Linked DNA regions of Homo sapiens. The protein of the gene in region 7 purifies or fractionates together with the protein of the main gene of each other region. This does not show direct contact. Each region holds a gene or a part of one and is shown on either strand. Other genes may lie near its edges. The genes, in order: CUL4B, FGF8, PFDN1, CETN3, VBP1, PDCL3 and DCAF12L2.

What was found.
Region 1: the proteins of DCAF12L2 (region 7) and CUL4B purify together in Homo sapiens (affinity purification with mass spectrometry; one large-scale study listed by BioGRID and IntAct). This does not show direct contact.
Region 2: the proteins of DCAF12L2 (region 7) and FGF8 purify together in Homo sapiens (co-immunoprecipitation; one large-scale study listed by IntAct). This does not show direct contact.
Region 3: the proteins of DCAF12L2 (region 7) and PFDN1 purify together in Homo sapiens (co-immunoprecipitation; one large-scale study listed by IntAct). This does not show direct contact.
Region 4: the proteins of DCAF12L2 (region 7) and CETN3 purify together in Homo sapiens (co-immunoprecipitation; 3 studies listed by BioGRID and IntAct, with this or other methods). This does not show direct contact.
Region 5: the proteins of DCAF12L2 (region 7) and VBP1 purify together in Homo sapiens (co-immunoprecipitation; one large-scale study listed by IntAct). This does not show direct contact.
Region 6: the proteins of DCAF12L2 (region 7) and PDCL3 purify together in Homo sapiens (co-immunoprecipitation; one large-scale study listed by IntAct). This does not show direct contact.

Annotation. Positions count from the first base shown.
Region 1 is NC_000023.11:120,554,463-120,557,962, reverse strand, and holds part of CUL4B (cullin-4B), read left to right. Parts: coding exon 1-39; intron 40-3,500.
Region 2 is NC_000010.11:101,773,315-101,777,458, forward strand, and holds the start of FGF8 (fibroblast growth factor 8 isoform F precursor), read right to left. Parts: upstream 2,801-4,144; 5' UTR 2,587-2,800; coding exon 2,555-2,586; intron 2,463-2,554; coding exon 2,426-2,462; intron 1,903-2,425; coding exon 1,816-1,902; intron 1,599-1,815; coding exon 1,418-1,598; intron 1-1,417. UniProt on the Homo sapiens protein: Plays an important role in the regulation of embryonic development, cell proliferation, cell differentiation and cell migration. Required for normal brain, eye, ear and limb development during embryogenesis.
Region 3 is NC_000005.10:140,282,602-140,286,101, forward strand, and holds part of PFDN1 (prefoldin subunit 1), read right to left. Parts: intron 1-3,500. UniProt on the Homo sapiens protein: Binds specifically to cytosolic chaperonin (c-CPN) and transfers target proteins to it. Binds to nascent polypeptide chain and promotes folding in an environment in which there are many competing pathways for nonnative proteins.
Region 4 is NC_000005.10:90,392,757-90,396,256, reverse strand, and holds part of CETN3 (centrin-3), read left to right. Parts: intron 1-2,149; coding exon 2,150-2,193; 3' UTR 2,194-3,500. UniProt on the Homo sapiens protein: Plays a fundamental role in microtubule-organizing center structure and function. As a component of the TREX-2 complex, involved in the export of mRNAs to the cytoplasm through the nuclear pores.
Region 5 is NC_000023.11:155,226,460-155,229,959, reverse strand, and holds part of VBP1 (prefoldin subunit 3), read right to left. Parts: intron 2,726-3,500; coding exon 2,659-2,725; intron 1,577-2,658; coding exon 1,478-1,576; intron 1-1,477. UniProt on the Homo sapiens protein: Binds specifically to cytosolic chaperonin (c-CPN) and transfers target proteins to it. Binds to nascent polypeptide chain and promotes folding in an environment in which there are many competing pathways for nonnative proteins.
Region 6 is NC_000002.12:100,569,493-100,572,992, reverse strand, and holds part of PDCL3 (phosducin-like protein 3), read right to left. Parts: intron 3,416-3,500; coding exon 3,272-3,415; intron 1,404-3,271; coding exon 1,195-1,403; intron 1-1,194. UniProt on the Homo sapiens protein: Acts as a chaperone for the angiogenic VEGF receptor KDR/VEGFR2, increasing its abundance by inhibiting its ubiquitination and degradation.
Region 7 is NC_000023.11:126,163,490-126,167,609, forward strand, and holds DCAF12L2 (DDB1- and CUL4-associated factor 12-like protein 2), read right to left. Parts: upstream 2,801-4,120; 5' UTR 2,436-2,800; coding exon 1,044-2,435; 3' UTR 10-1,043; downstream 1-9.

The DNA.
Region 1 (3,500 bases), 5.6 Mb from region 7:
AGTACTTCAATTAAGTACAATTTAGAAGAACTCTACCAGGTATGTATTAATATGCATAACCAGATTTGATTAACATAAATTGAGGTGGGATGTATATGGATTTTGCTTTCTGAAATAGGTTCTTAAGTAGACTTTTGGTTCCCTTCTAATTTTAGTTTCTCCATTAATTGATGAACTCTATAATTAGACCACGTATTCTCACATAAACCATGGGTACAGTCATACCAGTATAAGTTGTGCTTATATTTGACCCTCCTGATAAGAAATTACAGTTACGTGTACCTTGGTGTAATAGAAGTTCTACCTATAATGTAATCCTATAGCATGAATCCCAAAGATGATTTCTGGTGACATGTCATTCTATTGTGATAATTGTTTCTTAGTTGTGTTACCTACCCATAGGAAAGGCCTCAAGACATGCAGATATTATTCATATCCTTTATTCTACCTCCTTCTTAATAGTAGACTTTGCCATTTCTTTTTCTTGCTCTTTACATTTTTCTAATACCTGGGCTACAAGACGCACCTTAGCCCAGAAATGAGTAGCAGTTTGTAGTCCAGCAGCTTAGTCTGAGGTTCAGATTCTTTACTTAGCAAATGGGTCCTTACACTTAAATATAATTTTAAGGGCAGTTCCTAAGGGCAATCCCTTGCTACCAAGAAATTTTTCCCTACTGTGTATTTGACACACAACCAATTCAAGAAGTTACTTTCATTAGAGTGTCAGGGATTTGGTGTTAAAAGATACTTCAGGCCGGGCACGGTGGCTCACACCTGTAATCCCAGCACTTTGGGAGGCCAAGGCTGGCAGATCACCTGAGGTCAGGAGTTCGAGACCAGCCTGACCAACATGGAGAAACCCCGTCTCTACTAAAAATACAAAATTAGCCAGGCAATGTGGTGCATGCCTGTAATCCCAGCTACTCAGGAGGCTGAGGCAGGAGAATCGCTTGAACCCAGGAGGTAGAGGTTGCGGTGAGCCGAGATTGCACCATTGCACTCCAGCCTGGGCAACAAGAGTGAAACTCCATCTCAAAAAAAAAAAAAAATATATATATACTTCAGAGTACAATAGCTTGAATTTTTGTATTGATGAGTACCTTGTAAGAAATTATGTTGGTTTTATTTATCAGTATTTGTATATTTTAGTTGCAGAGCTAGTATGGTGATGGGTAAACCTGGATTAGGAGTCAGAAGATGGGTTTGGGATCTAGTTTTGACTGCTGTTACCCTCATAATCTTGGGCCAGGTACTAAAGCCCTCTCAGTTTTTTTTCCTGTTTTTTTAAGAGATAGGGGTCTTGCTATGTTGCCCAGGCTGGTCTTGAACTCCAGGGCTACAGCAGTCTTGTCACCTCAACCTCCCAAGGTGCTGAGATTACAGGCATGAGCTACCAAACCCAGCCGTCACTCTCAATTTAAATTTCCTCCTCTCTAAAGTAGAGGAAATAATAGTTTGCCCTACCTGTCTCACAAGGTTGCTGATAAGAATCAAATAAGATATTTGTGGAAAACGCCTCCAGGCACTATAATCTTACAAATATAAGATGGTATCACGAGTCAAACTTTTTTACAAGCCACATTATAGCTTCTTCACTTGTAGTATGACAATTGAGATCACCAGTTTCTGTTGCTGTGAAAATTAGTACACGCAAAATACTCAAATCAGTGCACAACACATAGTAATAATGCCGTGTAACATTATAAGCATTATAATGCTATGCAAATGTCGGCTAGTAGTTGTAGTACTAAGCTATTACTTAAGAATAAGCCCATTTCATATGGCTCTTTTGGCGTATTATATATGCGTCTCTTAAAATGTACAACAATAAAAGCCAAAATATGAAACTGACTTGGAAAGGCCTTAAGAGAGCATGTGGTCCAATATTTTTTCTTTGTGGTGTCCATGACAGCCTGCAAAGGGGATTCATCTCGTATTATCTCATATAAGCATTATGGAAACCCTTTCTGGGGTACGTAGGGTAGTAGTTACTATCCCCACTTTTTTTTTTTTTTTTTTTTGAGATGGAGTCTTGCTATGTCACTCAGGCTGGAGTGCAGTGGCGTGATCTCGGCTCACTGCAACCTCCACCTCCCGGGCTCAAGTGATCCTCTTGCCTCAGCTTCCCAAGTAGGTGGAATTACAGGCGCCTGCCACCACGCCCTGCTAGTTTTTGTATTTTTAGTAGAGACAGGGTTTCACCATGTTGGCCGGGCTGATCTCGAACTCCTGACCTCAAGTGATCCACCCGCCTCCACCTCCCAAGGTGCTGGGATTACAGGTGTGAGCCACCGCGCCTGGCCTATCCCCACTTTATTGATGAGGAGACTGAGTCTCAGAGAAGTTGAATAACCTGCCCAGAGTCACATATTGGCAGAGCAGGGGCAACTCAAACTGAGATGCTGGATTTCTAGTTCATTGCACTTTTACTCCTGTACCACCTCACTAATATACCCTGGTACTTTGAATACCACTGTAGTGCAGTGTTTGAAACAATTAAATTGTTTTACTTTAGGGAAAAAGCTCTTTATAATTTTAGTAGTATTTTTATCTGTGCATGCATAAGTGGTGTTTATTTGGATAGTATATGGTGTTTATTTGGATATGCTGGTATACAGCATATTTAATTTCAATAATATTTTATATATTCCATATTTGTAACAAATGTTTATTGTGGTTATTAATTAACCCTATTTACTTTACCTTGAATATTTTTCCAGAGCTTTTGATTTGAAAATACTTTTCCTGATACATTGATTCTGTTAAATCTTTTTCTTTCAAGAGCATAGAGCTTGCATCTCTTGTTTTTGTTTTCTTGTACTTCGTAAGTTTTACCTGCTGTTGTTCAGTTGCATTTCTTTAGCCTAGTCACAAGTCTTATAACTTCACTGTTTGCATTTTTCATAATACCTTACTGCTTTTGCTATAATGAATTCAAAAGCATTGGTTTTTAGCTCTTTTACTGTTTTTGACCTTAATTTTATAAATGTTCCTTTGGATTGTTCTCAGAAAGATTATTTTGAGATGTTCAAGTTCAAACAGGAGGATAAAGGAGGTAAAGCTATTTCATATAATCTGGACTTCAGGTGCTTGTTTGATTTTGACTCATTGAAACGTAATTAGAAGTACTCTCTCAATCTACCTGAGTGGGAAATAAAAACATAAGAAAAAGTACTCTTCTAAAATTGAAATAATGTGGAAATATGTAGTTATACAAAAGTTCTCCAAACCCCTGTCCCACCCTCTTTCTCTGAGGTAAACACTTACTGGCATATATCTGCTTAGAACTTACTTCTGCATGAAAAAACATTTTGCTTTAAAGCTTTAAGTATGGAAGTCCCTAGTGTGGGTTGCATGTACTGCCTACTAAGTTTTTAATTTCTATAAAAGAACATGCTGTTCTAAGTACACTTGCAGTAAGCAAACATTGTCTTTTTAAAGTAATTTTAAATTAGAATTGGACCTGAGTTTTAAAATTATCTTTCCTTGACAACCTTGAG
Region 2 (4,144 bases), on a different chromosome or scaffold from region 7:
CTGGAAGAGCCAGGCATTCGTCTCCTCTCCTTAGAAGCTGAGAAGGGCAGCAAGCAGCTAATTTGGAGGGACAAAGGGATGGTAGGCCTGCTCTGCCAGCCCAGTAGGGGAGCTCGGCCACCAGGCAGGCCGCCCCCACCCCCACCCCAGAAAGCCCGCTCTCTCCCATGTCGGTTGAATCTGCTCCGATCTGGGGAGCTGGGGCCGCAGTTTACGGCAGCTCTCCCGACCGGGCTTTTGGAAAGCTTAACATTTTCAAACCTATTCTTCCACCCCAGTGACAGATTTATCCCAGGAAAATTATGTCTCCTCCAGCTTTGAAGGGAAGTCAGCTACGTCGATGCAGAAAAAATGCAGCGAGACATACTCGATCCCCCAAACTGGCTCAAGAAGAGGAGAAAGTATTCAGGAAATGTTAAAAAAGGTGAAAGTAAGAAGAGTTTTAATCGCTCTGCCAGACGCAGGGGTCTCTCCAGAGATTCAGAGAGAACAATCTTGAACCTCTTTTTTAACATTTACAGACTTGCAACTCCTTTCAAACTCCACATCTGAAAAAAAGCTCGTTCTTTTTCTGTTTTATATCATTCTTCATTTTTCTTCTTAGCTCTTAAAATGCCTCACCTTTTTATTACATTTTAATAGAGTCTTCCCCTCTCCTTTCATGCTTGTTTAACGTGGTCATTATTTAAAGGTTTTTAAACTCACAATAATCGCTCTCTAAAAACAACACCAGCCGCCCAGAGGGCTTGCTTTTCTCTTGGTACATCCAGGACTCTGGAAATTGGCCCCGTTTCAAGGCAGGAATATTGAATGTTTTAGAAATCAATCAGTCCTCAGCCTCTCTGCCGGCAGTAGCTCTCCGCACTTGCCACCCCACAGGGAGCCGGGAGCCCTGCCCCAGCCGCCTGGGTTCCCCAGGGAATGGAGCAGGGAGAGCCCCCTTCCAAGCCCAGTTTCCACGTGTAAATTGACCCATCCGATTAAAGTATTTAAGGGTTCCCAGCAACCTCCTTTTCCAACTGGGAGAGTTGAGGGGATTTCTCTCCCTTCTCTTTCCCACTCTCCTTTTGTGGGCCCTGGCGACATATCCTCTTTCAAGCGCTTGCCTTAAACCTAGGCCCCCTCCCCCTGAACCCCCTGCCTCCACCTGCAGCTGGGGAGGAGTGTATGAAGGGGGGAGGTGTAAAGGGAGATTCCTAGATTCATTCATTTGCTGGGCAGGGAAGGGGGCACCTGTGGCCAAGTACTCCCCGAGGCCCCTTCCCTAGCCCTCTCTTCCCCAGCTGACCCTCAAGACACCTTTCTGCCTTAACTCCTTCCCTTCTGAGCTGGGGACCCTGCAGGCCCCCGGCCAGTGCAGTTGGGACTGGTGGTCCAGGCGCCGCGCATCCCACAAGCTACCTTCAGCGCGCCTTACCGAAGGGGTCGCCGTCCTCTGCCATGGCGTTGATGCGCTTGTTGGCCAGGACCTGCACGTGCTTCCCGCTGGTGCGGCTGTAGAGTTGGTAGGTCCGGATGAGGCGGCGGCTGAGCTGATCCGTCACCAGGCTCTGCTCCCTCACATGCTGTGTAAAATTAGGTGAGGACTGAACAGTTACCTTTAGGAAATTGAAAAATACACAATACACCATTATAATGCTACTCCGCCCAGGGGCCCGAGTGGCCCCATCACCCTGCGTCCCCCTCACTGCCCCAAGCCGCCAGCAGGTGCTGGGGGTTCCCCCAACATGCCAGCCCAGGCCACCATCCCCCACCCACGCAAGTCGGGCAGACCCAGCCCAGGATGAACGAGCCCCAGGGAGAAGCTGGACCCACCTGTTGGGAGACACCCTGGGGCTCCCGGCCAGCCCGGAACAGGGAAGCGAGCTCCCTGCCCAGCGCAGGGCCCCTGCCCGGGCCTTCCTAGAGGAGCAGGGCGCTTTTAAGTAGGGAGGCAGCCCTCCCCGACCCCTGACATTTATAAAGACAAATTTACGGAGCAAATGTTGAGAGTGCAGGGAACCTGGGCACCCGATCATTGGGCCAAATCGGCCACAAGCCTCCCCCGAGGGGCGCTGAGAGGGTCTCTGCTGCAGTCACCCGGCTTCCCCTGGCATCGAACATCCATCCCCTGGCCGCGGCTGCCCCCTTCCTCGGCGGCTGGGTGTTCCCTATGCCCCCAGCCGGCGAGGATGCATGGGGGACAGTGCTGGGCTCCGAGACCTTCGTTTCTATCCTGGCCACTCACTCGCTGTGTGACCTCAGGAGGGGTGCTACCTCTCTGTGCCTCAGCTCCCTCCTCGGGGTGGCTCGGGGCTGGGTTTCTAAGGTGCCCTCAGCCCTCCCGCGCCGGCCGCAGAGTCAGTCCCGGTGCCCCCGACCGGCGCTGCCCACCCGGGTCTCACACCGGCGCGCCCGGCCCCCGCCTCCGCGCACCCCTCCTCACCTGGGCTTGGAGGCAGAGGACCAGCAAGTGCAACAGCCTGTGGGAGACAAAAGCGGGCGGGAGAGAGAGGCGCGGGTGAGGCGAGGGGCGCGGGGGGCGGGTGGCGGGGCAGGGCGGCGCGGTACTCACAGGCAGCTCAGCGCGGAGCGGGGGCTGCCCATGGCGCGCGGCCCCGGGGCACCGAGAGCCCGGCGGGTCACGCCGTCCCGCGGGCCGCCGCGGGAGGACGCGCTGAGCAGGGCGCGAGCGGAGAGGGTGCGGGTGCGGGAGGCCGGCGGCGATCACGACGCGGCTCCGCGGGTCCCGTGGAACGTCGTGCTCGCCGCGCCGCACCGAATCGCTGTGCGCCGCTGCCGGAGCCGGTGGCCGCTGGCTGCTCGGGAGCCGGAGCGGGCGGGAGGGTCACGGGCTGGCGGGGTGGGTGGGGAGGTGGGAGGGCGGGGAGGGGTGGGGGCGGGGGGCGCCGCACCGGGCGCGAGGGGGGAGCGCGGGGCGGGCGGCGGGAGCCCGCAGCCCCCGGCTGGGAACTGGGGCCTGGATGCAGCCCGGGGCGGGGGCGGGGCGGCCGGGGAGGGGCGGCCGACGGGTTCGGGATTGAGGGTCTGGGCTAGGGGAGGGGTCTGGGGACCCGCGGGAGGGGCGGGGGCGGCCGGTCTGGGCGCCTCCCCCTATCCCCGGCCTGTCCCCTCGCGCGCTCCCCGGTCCCGGACGCGCGGGGATGGGGGCGCCTAGGGCTGCAAACTCTGCGGGCCGGGAGACCCCGAGCCTGGGCTTCCCCGACCGCCTGGAGCGCCCGAGTCTGGCGGGTCTGGGTCTCCGCCTCCGGGCCCAGCCGCTTCCGCCGCCGGCTACGCAGTGGTCTCCGAGCCACCTACTGTGTGTCCCGCCGGGCCCCTGGGAGCGGCCGCTAACCATGCAGCGAATGGCTGCGCACCCGGCCCTCGCGCAGTGCGTGCCGGTGCCACCCGGACCCCGCTCCCCTGTTTCGGCCGCGTGCCCCGTCCTGTCGGTCTCTCCAGTCTCCTTCACTCTCCCGAGGAGGCCCTGGGAGCCAGAAATGCCTCCCCCTCCCCCCATCCCATTATCACTATCACCCCTTCCCCTGTGCCCCTCACCACACACACACACACACACACACACACACACACACACACTAGCCTGAAGCTTGAGGAGCACCCCGAGCCACCTGTGTGGAAGAGAGAGTCCGGAGGTCCCTGGCAGGACCCACTGTCCCCGTACCTCAGCAGGCAGCAGGGGCAAAAAAACTCTCAGTAGCTTTTACTGGGGGAAGGGACTTCCATCCAGGCCACCCAGCCCTTTCCCCCTCAAAGCCCCACTCGTTTTTCATTTCACAGGTATTTACACACCTACTGTATTCTAGGCAGGGGCTGGTCAGCTGGGCTTGGGGCATAGGAGAAGGTAGGCACTTGTCTAAGCCTTTCCTAGCCCCCCACCTTGTGGCTTCCCCCCTGAGGTTTCTGGAAACCCTGAGCCCCCATGCTGCTTCTGTGGGAGCAGCCTGGGTGGACAGAGATGCTCTGGGACAGGTGCCTTGTGAGGAGCAGGTGATGCCCTACCAGACTGCTGTCTTCACTTACAACCTCCCCTTCCCCAGTGACCCTCCATTCCCCTGGGGGTAGGGCTGGAGGGTTTGGTGTGGTCCCAGGAAGCCATTAGGCCAAAATTAGCGGCAGCCCTAGTCCAGCAGCACAGCCAGGC
Region 3 (3,500 bases), on a different chromosome or scaffold from region 7:
TCAACTTTTTCCATTTTACATCAGGCACATTATTTACCACTGATGAGGGTGGAAATATGGAGAAGTTTTAAAAATTAACACTGAAACTGTTTTATGACTTTATGTTCACAATTCTTGCTTCAGGGAAAGGAAGAACAAACTTTTATAGCCCCAAGTAAGTGAACTGAAATATTTCCCCTCCACTGGAACCAAGGGAAGACCCCAGTTATGCAAATCTCTTTCAGGACTGTCTAAGGAAGCTAAAATATATTTCAATTTAATATTGCAATTAATTAAGCAAGATTTTTCTTCTCTTTGCACTAACAGAGTTCAGCAACAAAGAACTAAACATCATCTCTTAACAAAAAGTCAAACGAGAAAACACATCAAGGTAGCAACATGCAGTTTCCTCTGCCAACCCCACAAAAACATCATTGTGCCTAGGTGGGTTCTTATCAAGAGAGTCCGTTATTATAGATATAAGACAAGTAAAAACAGACCAAAAAGGGCAATTAGCTATGCCCCAACACCTGGAAGGAAACTGCCTTGTCCCCTCTTCTTCATAACTAAGCCTTACCACACATATTAATAAAATCTGAAGAACTTCTTTTACTCCACTAATTATTAAGCTTATATCCTAATGCGGCCAGCCCAGATAATTTTTTTTTTTGAGACGGAGTCTCGCTCTGTTGCCCAGGCTGGAGTGCAGTGGCATGATCTTGGCTCACTGCAAGCTCCACCTCCCGGGTTCATGCCATTCTCCTGCCTCAGCCTCCCGAGTAGCTGGGACTACAGGCGCCCACCACCACGCCTGGCTAATTTTTTCTATTTTTTAGTAGAGACAGGGTTTCACCATGTTAGCCAGGATGGTCTCGATTTCCTGACCTCGTGATCTGCCCGCCTCGGCCTCCCAAAGTGCTGGGATTACAGGCATGAGCCACCACGCCCAGCCCAGCCCAACTGATGATCTTAGTCTTCAGTAGTAACTTGATTCTTTGTAAAACCTTACTGTATATTTACAGGAAAGAGAGCCCACATTCATGCAAAACAAGGATTAATTCCAGGTCTTTTACTATAGAACCCTTCATGTCTAAAATATTCTTACTGGATCCAAGAGATGGGTGCTATTTCAGATAAGATTATGGTTTACAGAATATTTTTCTCAGAACTAACTCATATTTGTATTTGAAGAGAAGAGTTGTTTTGAACAGTACTAAGTCTCAGTAATGTTATGTAAAAACTATTCTAAAACAAGGTGCAAGAGTCACCAAATTATGTCATGACATGTGTGATTTTACTGAGAAAGTCTTTTAGCCATGGAAATAATTTTTTGAGTAAAATATACATTTTTAAGTAGCACTGATAGCTGGCCAATGAGTACTATTCTCAAATAAAAGGTCATCAGACATCATCTTTATTAGTGTCTGGGAAAATTTCAAAGCTAAGATTAGAGGTCAAGTCATTACTTATGTGGCCTTTAAAAATAAAGTATCTGAACAGATACTAAATCTCTTGAGCAGAAAATAAAATTACTAGAAAGCAAGAACACTCAACAACAAAAACACGTTTTTCCATGACCACATATCCTTTGAGGTAGCTATACTGGACTGTGCCAACTTCAAAGGCCAGAGAGATTCCACCGAAGCTGGCCAACTTACTACTACAAACCTAAGGACATCTCAGCCACGCAAGTTTTAACAAGGATGAATGTTGGGTAAATGCAAATGTCTACCTCAAAGAGTAGTTACACAGTAAAAATTCAAACACAAAAACTTATGGAAAGTTTGGTTTAGTCCTCAATTTAAAAAATGGCAAAGATATATTGTATGAAGACTGGAAAAGGCTCCAAGAAACATCTGATTTCTGAAAAAAAGTCTTTGGAAAACATCTTTCTTATTGTTTAAAAGGGCATTGGATTATCAGATACTATGTGAAGAGAAAGGATTTATCATGATAATATAAGTCTTATCATAAGCAAATATTATGTACACAGTTGCTCAATGTAGAGAATCTCATAGTCATTCTGCCTGATTGTTTATGGAAAGCCAAATAGTAAATAAAGAATTCTGGAGTTCAAAATGTACCAATAAGGAAAAATAAACCATGAAGAGGGAAAGTATTCTCTCATGACAAATAATATGCAGATAACATGCTTAAAATACTCAGGATTATATAACCTGAATTCGAGTTGATGCTTTGCAAAAGGCCTCTTCTTTGACCTGGAAATCAGTGCCACGTGCCTCTGCACTGTCCACTCTCAAGGACTTGTAACCTGCTATTTCACTTCCTCATTTATTTGTAATTATGCCATCTGAAAACATAATTCTGAGACTTTCGGTTTTGATTATTTGAGAAACATCAGACTCCGTTTTCTAAATCATCCTGCAGTTTGGTACAACTTCCACTTTCTTATAACTCAGTATGAATCAAAACCATTGTTCACCTGCCCAAAACACAATCCCAGATCACTTGCACTGCTGCATTTTGGACACAATTTCCAAAGTATGGTCACCTAGACATATGCTATTCAGAAACAACAAAATGCTTATGACGAGTTCACTTTGGGTGGGAAATTTTTAGAGGGTGTCTAAAAACGTATCCTATTAGCATTTAGGTTTCAGGGTATTCACAAATTAAGCAGCATAGAAAAGACATAAGAATGAGCCTATCTTCAGGAGAATGGCGTGAACCCGGGAGGTGGAGTTTGCAGTGAGCCGAGATCGCGCCACTGCACTCCAGCCTGGGCAACAGAGCGAGACTCCATCTCAAAAAAAAAAAAAAAAGAATGAGCCTATCTTGCTTCTTTGCCTAACTCCACTGGTGAGGAAAGTTACTGAATTTTTACGTCGTAATTTTTAGCGTGGAAGCAAGTAGAAATAAATTGAACTTCTTTTTTTAAAATTTTTTTAAATTGAATTTATTTCTTACTTTAATCACTTCCTTAGTAAGGAAGTGATTAAAACTTTATGGCACATCCACATTGTGGACTGCTCAGTGAGTTACAGACTTCTGTTATTGGCATAATGAAGAGTAGATACCCTGAACACTCCTGATTAGAAACAAAGGAAAAAAAAATTTTTTTTTAACATTTTGTTGAACTAACACAAAAGGAAGGATTCCACAAAGGTCCAAAGTGAAGTGAAACTGGGAATTCAGGAATGTAAGACAGCAGTAAATTGGCTTTCATCCTGAGAGTTTATGCTGAATCCTGGAGACCTTAAGTATCCACACTGGCACAGAAATAGGATACAAAACAGGAGATAAAACCAAGGGGGCAGCCAGGCATAATGGCATGCACCTGTAGTCCTAGCTACTCAGAAAGCTGAGGTGTGAGGATTGCTTAAATCCAAGAGTTCAAGTCCAGCCCAGGCAACATAGCAATGCCCCATGTCTAAAAAATAAATAAATTTTTTTAAAAAAGAATGACTAATTAAATAAAAAACCAAACCGAAATTTAAAAAAAAATATTTTTTTTATTGACATGTAAAGATGTCAATATAGTAAGTTAGTAAGTAAGTAAA
Region 4 (3,500 bases), on a different chromosome or scaffold from region 7:
GCTTCATAGTTCCCTGTCAGCTTCTGGAGGGTGCATTTTTCCTAACTCATAGCTTATTTCTGTGAGGCATACACTATTCTTTCTTTGACTGTATTTCTGATGGTATTCTCCCACCCCAGCTCTCTTTCTACTTCCTTTCCAAATTCTGTATTTTTATTTTAGAGCCCAAGTAATGATTTACCTTTACCTAAATTTTTCTTATTAGTAATAATTTTTACCATTGTGAAGGATTTTTTTTCAACACTGATTTGGTCTTTGTTTTAATAATAAATAGTATTTTGTGTTATAAAACATTTGTTCTGTTTCAAGTATAAAAACTGACTAACATAGTTATCAAAACCGGTTTTCTATGTGGTTTCTAGAACCAGTGCAGTATATATTCTTTTCATTCCCTATGACCATGTTTTATCTCCTCAACATTTTTTAATTGGTTAATTTTTTCTAACTGTTCATTATGAATATTCTCAAACAGAAAAATTGTCAGACTAGTACAATGAACACCATTGTACCTTCTGCCTAGATTTAGTAATTAGTATTTTACCGCATTTGCTTTACCTGTCGTGTGTATATTTTTTTCTCAATCATTTGAAAATAAATTTCATATATCAAGAACTCAGTCTTTAGGCCAGGCACCATGGCCCATGCCTGTAATCCCAGCACTTTGGGAGGCTGAGGCAGGTGGATTGCTTGAGCCCAGGAGTTCAAGACCAGCCTTGGCAACATGGTGAAACCTAATCTCTACCAAAAATACAACGATTAGCCAGTCTCATAACCCGGTCTCTAAATTAATTAATTAATTAATTAAATTTTAATAATAAAACAAAAACTTGATCCTTTAATATTTTAGCATATCCATCTACTAAGAACAAGGATATATCTTTCATAAAGCTATGATACCAATGTTACACTTAAGAAAGTTAACAATAATTTTATAATATCATATAATATCTTTCTCATTTCGGTTTTAATGTATTCCAGAATAGGAAGCCTGGTGTCTGTTTTGATATATTACGCAACACTTATTGTGGTGTTGGCATTCACTAGCCACTTAAAAATGTTTGATTCAATGGAGTATTTTCATATAATACCTTCTATGGTAAATAAGAGTTAAACAATCTAAAACATCATCTCATAGTTCAGTGTTTTCAGATGAAGGAAATGAGATGCAGAGCTGTTCTGTGCAGAGCTGTGACTAGAGACCAGGTCTTAAGTCTCAGTGTAGTTTTCTTTTGGCATTATCAAAATTATCATTCATAATTTATGCATTGTTTAGGTATGTATTAAGTCTTAGGGCTAAATGCTAAATACTTACCAGAAGTATCTTCTGAACATTTTTCTTAATTGATACGTGCGCATATGTCGGGTTTTCAAAATTATATTCTATAAGATTATCTGATTTCTTATTTCTAGGTTGCTGTCTTAAACATTATGTTTTATAAATTGGAGATTCTTACTATATTTATAATTTTGGCAAACTAAAAATTAGTCCTTATCCATGATTATTTTCTGCCTTTACATCTATATAGTTACTGGATTACTTTGGTGATTAAGATTACATCTGTAATCTTTTCAAATTGCCATTTTTATTGATACCTTTGAGGTATGGTGACCTGGTTTTAATTATTCTTTAACATAGGCTTTTAAGTATATAAAAGTTCAAAAAATAATAATTTAACTTCTTTTTATAATTTTATTATATTTTCATTCTTTAGAAATCTAATTTACATGCATGATATGTTCAAGCTTACTTGTAAAGGAAGGATTTGCTAAATGAACTAGTAGAATAAAGATTATAAAGAGGGTTGTTTAAAGAACCTTGAAATGTCAAGCATTTAAAATGTTTTAGCAAGTATGTACAAATATGACTGTGATTGACTTTTTTGGTAACATTATCTTTTCCCCAGTTAATATTATAGAATACTAATTTGTAATGTTTATCACATTATATGTATTTTTGCATCCAAGAAGTTACATTTAATAAACATGTTCCACTTCCTAACAAAGAAGTAAAAGCAAAAAGCCATGTCTTAATGTAATAATTTTGCATAATGTAAAATTTTTTAAATACTTAGTGTAAAATGGTAGTCGTGGATTCTGAAAAAATAAAATGTTTATATTTCTGACTATTTCATTTTCTTTCTTACCACAGTAAACCAAGAGGAGTTCATTGCTATTATGACTGGTGACATTTAAAGAATTACAAGGATAAACACTAAGAATGTTGCAGTTACCATCTTATATTCTATTTTTGTGCCTGGAGCCATGTGAAAAAAACCAACTTAGTTCTTTTATCCTAAAGGACCAAAAATAAGCATCTTATATATCTGTATTTTACTACTGTTAAGTTTCTTTGTATGAACTGTGTTGTTAGTACTCAGATAGTTTAGCTTTGTATTTATAATAGAGCTTTTATATAAAGTTTTAAAAATTGAATGTGTGATATGTGTTCTTTGAAGGTTTTTTAATTTAACATTTATAGTCACTTTTTAGTGCACACATTTTCCAGACTTTCGTTAATAAAATATTTATTTTATTAGAATTTTAAAGTTTGGTAAATTTGTTTTTATTCCTAGTATCTGTTAACCCTCAAGAGTGGATTTCTTAAATCTTCCCTTTATAATTTTACTAGTTTCTGAAACAAAAATTGAAATACAATTAGCAATAGAGTGGCACATTTTTCCATTACCTAACATTTCATCAATTTTGACATTCTATATTTTAATACAAGCTGACTCAATATAAGCCTAATTCCTTTTTTAAGAGTCCTGTCTTTGAGTTTAGAAGGAATAAGTATTGTGCAGATAGACCCATTTATCCTTGTGTATTATGTTTCTTAACTTGGTATCATTGTAAGTATGAAAGTTAATTTTCTTCTGAATATTTCCTTAAACAAATTGAATGAATACAATTTGAATTTTCTAACTTCTTGACTGAGAGATTTAAATTTTGGAATTTTGATTTGTTAAGGTAATTATCACTCAATTACATGTCACAGTGATGAAAATAGAAAACTGTAAGCCACAGAAATAATTTAAGTCTATGTTTTACCTATATGAAGGAACAGTCTGTGATTCACCAGGAAATAGTAGAGACACAGTTTCCAAGTACTGGTGGGCTCTTCTGCCTTGTAGAAGTGTATGTTAGGGGGAAACAAGTGGTTATGGAGATCGATCATAGAAAAAAATAGTACCTATATGGATCCTTCACTCATATCTAGTACTCGGTGTTATGGGCTCTCCCAGGAACGGAATTGAGTTGTCTATTTCAGCAATCTTTCTTTAGAATTCTTGTTTTAAATTTTTAAGTTTAAAGTGTAGTATCATTTGAGGCGCTTTAAATGTTGTGAGCCTTTTAAGAGTATTACATTAAGGGTTGTCCACTAGAAATTTAACACAAAATCAGTAGGGAATACTATAGCAGTAGTGACATTTCAAACAGTTATCTAGGAAGCAAGTGTATATTAAGTCATTCTTGTATTGCTACGAAGAAATACCCAAGAC
Region 5 (3,500 bases), about 29 Mb from region 7:
TGGTAACAGCAGTAAGGAAGTGAGAGATAGTTGGCTTCTCAATCTATTCAGAAGAAGGAACCAGTGGGGTTTGCTGAAGGACTGGTTGAGAGATATAAAATAAAGAAGAGTCAAAGAAGACTCAAAGATTTTTGTTCTGAGCAACCAGGCAAAAGATTCTGCCATTTACTGAGATGGAGAAGATTGTGGGAAGTGCCAGTCTATGAGTGGTGAAATGAGGATTTAAACATTCAAGAGGAATGAAAGAAGAAAAACATGAAAAGAGCAAGAAGAGCTCAGCAAAGAAAATGAAGAGAAAGAGAAACAGAAGAACAGTTACAAAAGACAGAGTAAAAGCAACAAAACAGAATAACTACCAGGGAAAACACAAAGTCATGGGGAAGCAGCCAGAGGAAATCACACAGAATGAAACACATCGAATAACTGAAAACAGAGAACATGATAGGTACTGAAAACAGATAAAGGAGATCGAACATATGCATATTTATTATTCCCAAAAGATAATAAAAGAAATGGGGCAAAAGTCACATTCAAGTACACAACAGAAATTATCTTTCCTGAAATAAAGTAACACTTGAATTTGTGAATCAAAAGGTCATGCAATTTCTACAAAAAAACTGAATACAGAAAATCATTGAATCCTTGGACACTCAGGTGTAGTTGCTATGCTTCAAAGTTATTTTTTAAAAAGCCTTAGTGATAAATTATAAAAGATAAATACTGAAATGCAGATTGTAGAGTGAAATATAAATGTTGTACAAACTTTGAGCAAACCTCCTTGGGCTAATCTAGAGTGCCTCTCCAGAGTGATCCTACAGGACAGCAGCTAGGGGAAATCCTCCCCGTAGGACAGCTGGTAGAAGTACACTTGGCTTGCTACTTTGTATGAGAACTTGCCTGAGGTAACAAGATCCACAGACAGGTAGCTGGATAGTCAGAGGACTGAGAAGAGCAAAATAGGTAAATCACAGATAAGCTCAATGAAATCATCTAAAACTGAAATACATGGTTTTAAAAAATAAACTCTAACCTCAAACTTTTTGCAATACTCTTTTTCCCCTTAAATTGAGAGGGATCTTTCTAGAATTATTAAACTCTTATGGGAAGAAGCGTTTATCTAAAGTTCAGCAGTACCTTCTATTTTACTTCTATTGCTCTTCCTCCATTATATTTAAGAGAGATAAAGCACTAACTGGAAGAGAAGCAGGGTTTGTTTGATCAGTTTTATCTTGATTGGGAGAGACTTCAGTATGTTTTTACTGCGATCTTCATCGCACTTCTGATTCTAGTCAATTTCTAATATGAACCACTTGGACTCTGTCCCTTTGTCCCTTCCACAATCAAAAGGAGATGAACACTTTACATATCTCGAGCAATACTACTAAAATACTAGCAAATACTAGCAAAACCAGTGTGTTTGCTACAGAAAACACACTGGTTTACAAATATATCAGCTGTGGCTATAACATTTACTTACCCCCAACCACAGACACACTTTATCGGTAGGAGGAACTGAAGCTTTGCAATACAGGTTATCTGCCAGCAAGAATCTGGTCTCCATTGAGTTGGTGGACTCCTTCAAAACAAAAAAAAAAATGACAGTACCATAAACAGGCCAGTTTGATACCAAGGTTATAAAGGAGAGATTGCACAGTTGAACCTAGGACATTTAAAACAGTACCATCATGCAGGCTAAGTGTAGTGGTAAAAGAAATGAATGCTAGACCCAGGTGGCTGGGTATGGACTCTGGCTCAGCTACTCACTAGCTGTACAAATCTGGCATCTCACTTAACTTCTATATCTCAGGTTCTTCATCTGTAAAATGAGGATTACAACAGTCCCTACACCTATGAAGTCAGTGGTAAGCACTGAGTATACACAGACACACACACACCCCCGAGTGCCTGACATACAGAGAAGGCATTATTGTAAGAATTAGCCATTCTTCTATTATTTCATTGGTGCTTCATGCCCAATCAATCAGTTGCTGAAGTCTTACAAAGTTCACCACATATTAAAATGTACTAGAAATAGTTATTCTACCAGTCAAGCAAAATCATAAGCATACACACAATCTTTTAAATACAATATGCTTATGAGATTTAATCTTTACAACCTGCTTTTATTTAATGAATACTGGATTAAGACTTAGAAGACTCTCAAATTTAGTTCTGCCAGTAACTAACTACATAGACAATGGTCGAGTATAACCTCTCCATAACCATTTCCTCAACTATGAAATGAGAACCTGTAACAGATGATCTCTAAGATTCGTTCCAGCTCTATAAATCTTGGACTAACTCCTTATTCTTAGGGAGAAAGACAACAACAAAGAAAAAACCCTAGATGCTGCTAGCACAGAATAAGACATTTTCTTTGTACACCTAAAACAATTTCAAATTGCATTTAAGTTTCACAAGCACTAAAGATAAGCAAAGTAATCCAAGTGTGGGCCCTAGAATTAAACTTGACTTTTGGGGGAAGGCCACAAAGCCACATTTGCTACAGAAGCACATCATAACATTAGTGTATGTGCTTAAGAAGGCAGACTGGATTCCACAGCACAGATCAAATATCAGTGACCAAAGAGTCAAAGAAGACGAGTTTCTGCTGACATATCCTAGCTTGCTCATATTTACAAACAAAAATGCACTTACTTTTTTCTTCTGCATGTATTTTAGAATTTCCAAAGTCTGTTTAATTTCAGGAATCTGACCTTTTAGCCTGTGAACAAGAAAAAGAGTAACTTAGTATTTTGCAGGCAAAAATAAACAACAGGACACGGTCTTACTAACTTTGCATTTTCTACTAATGTGTTCTTGAGGACTATTTATAGATATAAAATACTTAAGATATTTTTAGATATGAGATAAAATAAGATATAAATATTTATAAAAATAAAATATTTAAAGAAATATTCACCAAAAGAAAATATATTTAGTAAAATATTCATAAAATATTTAAAGTATAAATACTTAATAAAAATATTTAAGATATACTAGTGAATGTTTATGGAATGCCCATTCCATGAAGACAAAGCTCTGTTCTATTATGTCAAATACCCCATGGCTATTTAACATTTCTAGAGCAGACTATATTCCACAGAGGTGATTCATAGGTTCTGCATTTGATTAGAATGAAATTTTAAATAGATTAATTTTAAAACTAATTTTAAAAATAACATGGATTCAAAAGTTACATTCTAAAATAGAAGACACCAATCCCCTATCCAGTGATGCACATAGCTACTCCTGGTGTGTGCATTGGGTATACACACATGTACATCACAGTCAGCTAAATGCCAGGCAAAGCACAGTGACACCTTCTCAGTATGTGCACTTGTCACACTGTGAAAAATGTACAGAATCATCTGAATGCCAAACACACCACATTATGATACAGTATAATTTAGTGATTCTTTTAAGCTTTGGGTATTTCTTCCTTAACTTTTATGTTGATAAATGCTCTTCTTTTCAAATGAGGTAACGATCGTTCTTAA
Region 6 (3,500 bases), on a different chromosome or scaffold from region 7:
GAATTGCTTGAAACCAGAAGGTGGAGGTTCCAGTGAACCAAGATCGCACCACTGCACTCCAGCCTGAGCGAAAGAGCAAAACTCCATCTCAAAAAAACAAACAATCAAACAAAAACCACATCCTTCCGAGCTAACAGGCAGAATTAAATAAAATTTTAATTTAATTTAAAAGCTGGCCAGGCGCAGTGGCTCACGCCTGTAATCCCAGCACTTTGGGAGGCTGAGGCGGGTGGATCACCTGAGGTCAGGAGTTTGAGACCAGCCTGACCACATGGAGAAACCCTGTCTCTACTAAAAATACAAAAAAATTAGCCAGGCATGTTGGCACATGCCTGTAATCCCAGCTACTAGGGAGGCTGAGGCAGGAGAATCACTTGAACCTGGGGGGCAGAGGTTGCAGTGAGCCGAGATCACGTGATTGCACTCCAGCCTGGGCAAGAAGAGTGAAACTCTGTCTCAAAAAAAATAAATAAAAGCTACTAGCCGGGCGCAGTGGCTCACGTCTGTAATCCCAGCACTTTGGGAGGCTGAAGTGGGTAGATCACTTGAGGCCAGGAGTTTGAGACCAGCCTGGCCAACATGGTGAAACCCCGTCTCCACTAAAAATACAAAAATTAGCTGGGCGTGGTGGTAGGTGCCAGTAATCCCAGATACTTGGGAGGCAGAGGCAGGAGAATCACTTGAACCTGGGAGGCAGAAGTTGCAGTGAGGCAAGATCATACCATTGCACTCCAGCCTGGGTGACAGAGCAAGACTCTGTCTCAAAAAATAAATAACTAAGTAAATAAATGTAAAAGCTACTAACATACTCAACTGAGAATGTTTCTGTAGAAAAATACAAATACATACATTAACGTCTCCCTGTGTTCATGTGAATTAAAGCAAAAGTGAATGTTGTGATTTCAAGCTACAAAAACATCCAACTGTAGAGACAAAATATATTCCACACCAATATAAAAAATGTTTATATTTAAGTCTATCACGCCTTCCTTGAACTAAGAATCAGTAGAGCCCAGTTGTAACTGTTCCTGATTACGCAACTAAGATGAGAGATTAAACGTGCTTCCGTCCTCATACACAGGCAGAAGTGAACTTGACCCACCATCGTAACAGGAGTCCAGGAAATAGACACTCTCTCCAACAGAAATGCGCCTCCCATCTCTCACTGCCCCGCCTGTCTCCCAGAGCCCTTACCATCTCTTGTCAGGTTCATGCCGCCAAACACCAGAGGACCAATAAACTGAGCCTTGATATCTCCTTCCAGGTAAACAAATATCGTGGGCAGATTCCTATCAGGATAATTGGGTATGCAGGTTGTTGAAATGGCTTTGATAAATTTGACATCAGGAAACTTCCTGGCAAGTCCACTGAGGTGCTGATTTATCAGGGCACAGAGGGGAATTCTATAAAACACACATAGAAAACAGAAGCAATTATGATCCTACATTTATACAGAACAAAGCTCAATGACCCTTCTACCCTAAGTAAAACCTTGTAACAGTTTCACAAGTAATTCTGCTGCTAGCTAAGATGAATTAACATGTTTTTTTTGACATAGGGTCTTGTTTTCACCCAGGCTAAATGGAGTGAAGTGGTGTGATCTCGGCTCACAAGCAATGCTCCCACCTCAGCCCCCCAAGTAGCACTTTGGGAGGCCAAGGTGAGTGGATCATGAGGTCAGCAGTTCAAGACCAGCCTGGCCAAGATCATGAGGTCAGGAGTTCAAGACCAGCCTGGCCAAGATGGTGAAACCCCATCTCTACTAAAAATACAAAAATTAGCTGGGTGCAGTGGCAGGCGCCTGTAATCCCAGCTACTCGGGAGGTGTGATTACAGGCACACACCACCATGCCCAGCTGATTTTTTTTTTTTTTTTTTGTAAAGACAGGGTTTCACCACGTTGCCCAGGCTGCTCTTGAACTCTTGAGCTCGAGATCCGGCCGCAATGGCTTCCCAAAGTGCTGGGATTACAGGTATTACAGGTGTAAGCCACCATGCCCAGCTGAATTAACATTTCTTAAAAACTTCCTAATATGCTGAGGGAAAGTGAAGAACACAAATCCAAAGTCCAATTTATTTGACAAAACAAGTCAGAAAAACAGCTTCAATGTAAAAGATAAAATTGCTATACATTTCTTATAAGGTTGAATGAGAAAACGCTGAAGGTTTAGAAAGTATGAAATGTCAGAAAACGTTTTCTGCTTTAAAGAAATTCCTGGCCAGGTGCAGCGGCTAACGCCTGTAATCCCAGCACTTTGGGAGGCCAAGATGAGTGGATCATGAGGTCAGGAGTTCAAGACCAGCCTGGCCAAGATGGTGAAACCCCGTCTCTACTAAAAATACAAAAATCAGCTGAGTGCGGTGGCAGGCGCCTGTAATCCCAGCTACTCAGGAGCAGAGGCAGGAGAATCGCTTGAACCTGGGAGACGGAGGTTGCAGTGAGCCGAGATCATGCCACTGCACTCCAGCCTGGTCAATGGAGTGAGACTTTGTCTCAAACAAAAAAAAAAAAAAAAAAGAAATTCCTAAATAAGCACTGGACTCTACAGTTTAAGACAAGACTGGAGAGCTGAGAAAAATCAGAGGCCCTCAGTATCACACAGTTCAGGCAATTACTACTGTAAAGGCCAACCTTGCCATCTATGAGATAAATTCATTACATAGAATGTTGAAATGTCAGAGTTCCTGTAAAGGAATAAATAACTTAGGAATTCCTTTTCAAAAACAGAAAAGCATAGTCTTCATTGCTATACTTTAACAAAGGCATTCATATTAGTCACAAATTATTAACTTGAAAGTCTTAAGATAAAAAAATTAAGTAATAAGGTTTGGGCAAACCAGCAAAAAAAACACAAAAAACTCAGTACCAGAAAAATTTTTTCTGAGACAAAGTCTCGCTCTGTCGCCCAGGCTGGAGTGCAGTGGCGCAATCTCGGCTCACTGCAAGCTCCGCCTCCCGGGTTCATGCCATTCTCCCACCTCAGCCTCCCAAGTAGCTGGGACTATAGGCGCCCGCGACCACGCCCAGCTAATTTTGTTTTTGTATTTTTAGTAGAGACGGGGTTTCATCGTGTCAGCCAGGATGGTCTTGATCTCCTGACCTCATGATCCACCTGCCTCAGCCTCCCAAAGTGCTGGGATTACAGGTGTGAGCTACTGCGCCTGGCCCAGAAAAAAAAATTTCTTAACCCTCTGATATAGGTAACGCCTGAGATCCTGAAGACATAAATTCAAATTAACATTTGATAGATGGAGTGGAAGATCAGCTCACCCTTGTTTGTAAAGGTGCAAGATGACCCACAAGCCCTCGCCAGCTTTGGTAACTTCTTGAACATAATCCTTCCCTGAGATCTCCAAAACTTCTCCGAATTTATTCTTCAGTTTAGTTGCTTTCCACTCAGCCAGTCTCCGCCGTCTGCACAAAACAAGGAGAGAAACATCTTACGTCACAAACACGTGTACACACACATCGTCTAGAAGGCAATCCTTGTAAAAGCCCA
Region 7 (4,120 bases):
GCCACTTAATTGCTAAGATGATGAACACATTTTATTTATTTTTCTGCAACACATCACATACTGGATCCAGAATTATCCATGTATACAGTAATAAAAAATCAACACCTACTCTGAGCACAACTGCCACAACTGGCTTTTCACTGTAAATAGCTACCTGAATTTAAAGAGATGTGTACCCCATATACCCCCAAAAATACCTCCCTGATTGCACTACCACATATATAGACCAGAATTGAGTAGTTCTGAAAATCTGTAGCATAGAAAAGCAGGCCATAATACAGCGGCTTTAAATAAGAACACGGAGGGCCTGAGGATAGTAAAGTTTTACTGAATAACCAAAAATGTTGATTAATAGTATGAACAACATTGTAAGATTTCTAACTAACAGAACATATTTTTAAAGCATTTTACACATCAACACTATACAAACAACAGACATTGAGTTTCCAACATCCAAATGAATCACGCCCTAGAATGGTGTGTGCCACACTCTAGAATGGTGGCAATCTAGAACCTGAACTGCATTTTGTAATTAGAGTAAGGCTATAAATGATGGGTAGTTCCTCAAAACAACCCCAAAGATGCTTTGTAGCTCACATTTCCCCAAAACACCACACATCTAACATGTGTAAAAGATCTGAACACTATTGCAATATTGATAAAACTAACGTACTGAATAGTAGTGAAGACTATGACTACATCAACCTAAAGAAGGAGGGTATGTGAATCACTGAAAGACAGAACACAATTAAGGTTTAGCCAAAACTCTTTGAATGAGAAGGCAAAAATATACTGCTGTTGGGAAACGTGAATGAGAGTTTTAAAGCCAAAGTTTTGACTGCCGAAAGGACCACTTGTGCTCTCTCGCTCCCGCTCTCTCTCTTTCTTTCTCTGCCTAATACATTAAGCACACGTAAGTTGGACTGGTTCCACCTGGAAGACAAAAGCCACACAAAGTTAAAAGCACAAATGCAGCATGAAGAAGGAAAGTCAGGCGGAACTGAAAGGTAAACCTGTGCACTTTGAGAACAAGGCGTCCATCCTTAACTCCAGAGGCCTGCGTAGTTCCCATGGAGGCCTGAAGGGAGAGGCCCCCCAGCCACAAAGAGCTTCATCTCCGGCCAGTTGTAGCAGTGGGTGTAGAGCGCATTGGGGAACTCTCCCATGCCACCAAAGTAGTTCACCCAGACGTCATCTTGGTTGAGCCAGCCTCTGCCGCAGGCAAGCTTGAGCTTCCTCCCTGCGGGCCCCGGCATGGAGTCCAGGCTGGAAGAGGCCCTCTCCTCCAGGAACTTCTGGGCGCGGATGTCATAGAAGAGCAGGGAACCATGGCCGGTGCCCACAGTGATGATGTGCTGGTAGAAGCTCAGCGACCGCACGCCTGTGCCACCCTCTCGAGAGCACAGGGGCCGGATGTTCTGCTGGCGCTGGCGCGGATCCAGGAAGGAGACGTGGGACTGAGAGCCCACAGCGTACAGGGACAACTCATCACAGTAGGTCAGGCACACATTCTCTCGGCAGTAGGGCAGCCTGATGGACAGGAGCCTGGATAGTGTGCTCCGGGCTTTCCACAGGTGGAAGTAGCCGTCCAAGGACACCGCTCCCAGCTCCTGGTTCTTGCCGCTGAAGGCCAGGGCCCGTACCTTGCGGTTGCTGGGGTTGGTGCTGGCCCTGGGGATGGCCTCCACATCCCTCGGACGGATGTGGGCATATACTGGGAGACCCACCTCGCTGTGCCAGGCAATGCTGCCATTAAACATGTCTGGGTCCATCCGCCACAGAGCCACGGTGCCGTCGCGGGAGCCGCTCACAGCTACGGTGTCACTCAGCCAGGCGACTGCGAAGATCCAGTCCTTGTGGCCATGGCGGTCGCCCAGGCACAGGGGGTCCAGGGTGGGCAGCTGGTAGATGGCCAGGCTGTTGGGGTTTTCGCCGCCGGTGGCCAGAAGCGTCTTGGAGGGATTCAGCTCGATGGCATGGATGCCGCAGCCCTGGTGGGCCTGGGCCAGCCCGGCCTCCTTGTCCCGCATGAGGGGGATGCGCGTGATGTGGCCTGACTGCACGTCCACCACAAACAGCGTATTACACTTGGTGCCGCACACCACCTGCCTGGCGTTCAGCCACTGTGACGCGAACACCTTGTTGAGGGTGCCCAGGTCCAGCTGGCGCTCCGTCAGCAGCTCGGGCAGCCTCTGGACGGCGTAGCCCCGCAGCTCGCCCTCGAAGCCCTGGAGCCCGGCTGGGCCCCGCGCTCCTACCTCCCGGCCCTTCAGATAGTGCACCAGCCTGCGACGCGTCGCCGGCCGCTTCTGCTTCTTGGGTAGCAGAGGCCCCTCTCCGTCCGCCGCCGCTAAACCCTGCGACGACGAGCTCCCGGCTCCCGCCTCGACCGCGGGCGCTTTCCGTTTCCTGCTACCTGTTTGCTGCTGGGCCATGGTGGGCGGCGGGCGATCTGCAGCAGCGGCGGCGGCGGCGGCGGCGGCGGCGGCGGCCCGGCGGCGGTGGCGGCGCGTGGCACCCGTGTTGGCCGTGGCGGCGGTGGTGGGGATGGCTGCGCTTCCGCGTCAGCCGAGAGCTCAGGATCTCTAAGACCAAGAAGCTGGTGCGATCGCGGGCGCCCAGACTTCAGTCTGAGGCTCGGCGGCGGCGGCGGCGGCAGCGGTCGTCCTGGCCAGAGATGCGCGGCCTGACGTAGCAGAGCCGGGGCGAAGCGCGGCGGCAAGGGCGGCAGTGGCGGTGCAGACCTAGGCGAGAGCGGGAAGAGTGTCTGTCTGGATGGCTGCGGGAGCGAAGTCAGTGTGGGGGGAGGACGACGCTGGGGCCCGAGTGTGAAGGGCGGAGGCAGTGGGAGGAGCTGCTGGGCTGGCGTGGGGTGCCTGCCGGGTAGCGGAGGCCGCGCGGGGTGGAGGCTGGAAGGGGGCGGAGGGGAGAAGGGGGTAGCGGAGCTGCAGGGGCAGAGTCGCGGAGGGCCAGCACCCTAGGTCCCCAGTATCAGACATGCGTTGTTTCGCTACCCTCAGGACAACAGCTAACTACCCTTCTTAAAATCCGTACTTCAGTAAAATCTGAAACCTAAGATATAATCAAGCACGGGGCTAGAAGGAGGCCGAGCCACGGTCTGCCTGGAGAAACCAGTGTGCGCTTGGTGTAATCTTGGGACACCCTTCGCTTAGATTATACATTGAATTTGGCAAGGGATCGGGTGCGGGGGTGGGGGGGTGTGGGGTTCAGCAGCGTCAGGGAGACCTCTACCCTCGTGTCAGACCTGCAGCTTCTCCAGTTTCAGCTCCTGGGTTGATGTCTTAAACAGTTTCCACCAAATAATTTTTTTCCCCTTCTCAAACTGAAGTCTTTGAGCACCTGAATCCCTGAGCATTTGAACTGCGTTCCAAATGCAGTTCCCTAGGCCCTGCTTTCCACCCGGGTGGTATCAGGGACCCTTTAGTCAGAAAGCAGCCTCAGGAGCATCCAGGGCTGCAGTGATGATAGGGGTGGAGACATGGGGGTGAGGGGTGAAGAGAAGGGTTTTTCTGTAAGGCATTGAGTTCTTTCGAACTCAGCCCAGGGCGGGTGGAGTGAAGGGGAAGAGGTCCAGGAGAGGGGTACCTCCCTCTCTCTCCTGGGACGGAAAGGTCAGCCCAAACTTTCAGTCATAGGAATCTTGGCAGAGCCCTCTCTTGGTGTGGGGGCCCCCTTGGGCATTGGTACAGTACTCAGAGGAATGCACAGGATTTCCACAGGCACAGATGATAAAGAACTTTGCAAAGTGACTAAATGGCAAAATGGTGAGAGTGTGGATATTCAAAGCATGAGTTTGGCAGTCTGAGAAGTTACATGATCCACACCTGCTCTAAAGCTTTAGGGCAGTCAATCCTAAAGCAAGCCCCCAATTCCACAGTAATACCTTGCACTGAAATGCTGGTGGCTGATACCAGGTCTGCACAGGCCCCAATCGTCCTCCACAAAAAAAGTCTTTGTTAAGCGTGTTTGCAGAAGTCAGGTGGTGAGTTAACTGTCCTTGATCAGAGATCATGAAAATACTTTGTTGCTGTTTCCCCCCAATTCTCCCTGCTCTTTTTACAAACTTATCTCAAACCCAGAAACTCCAAGTGCACCATGG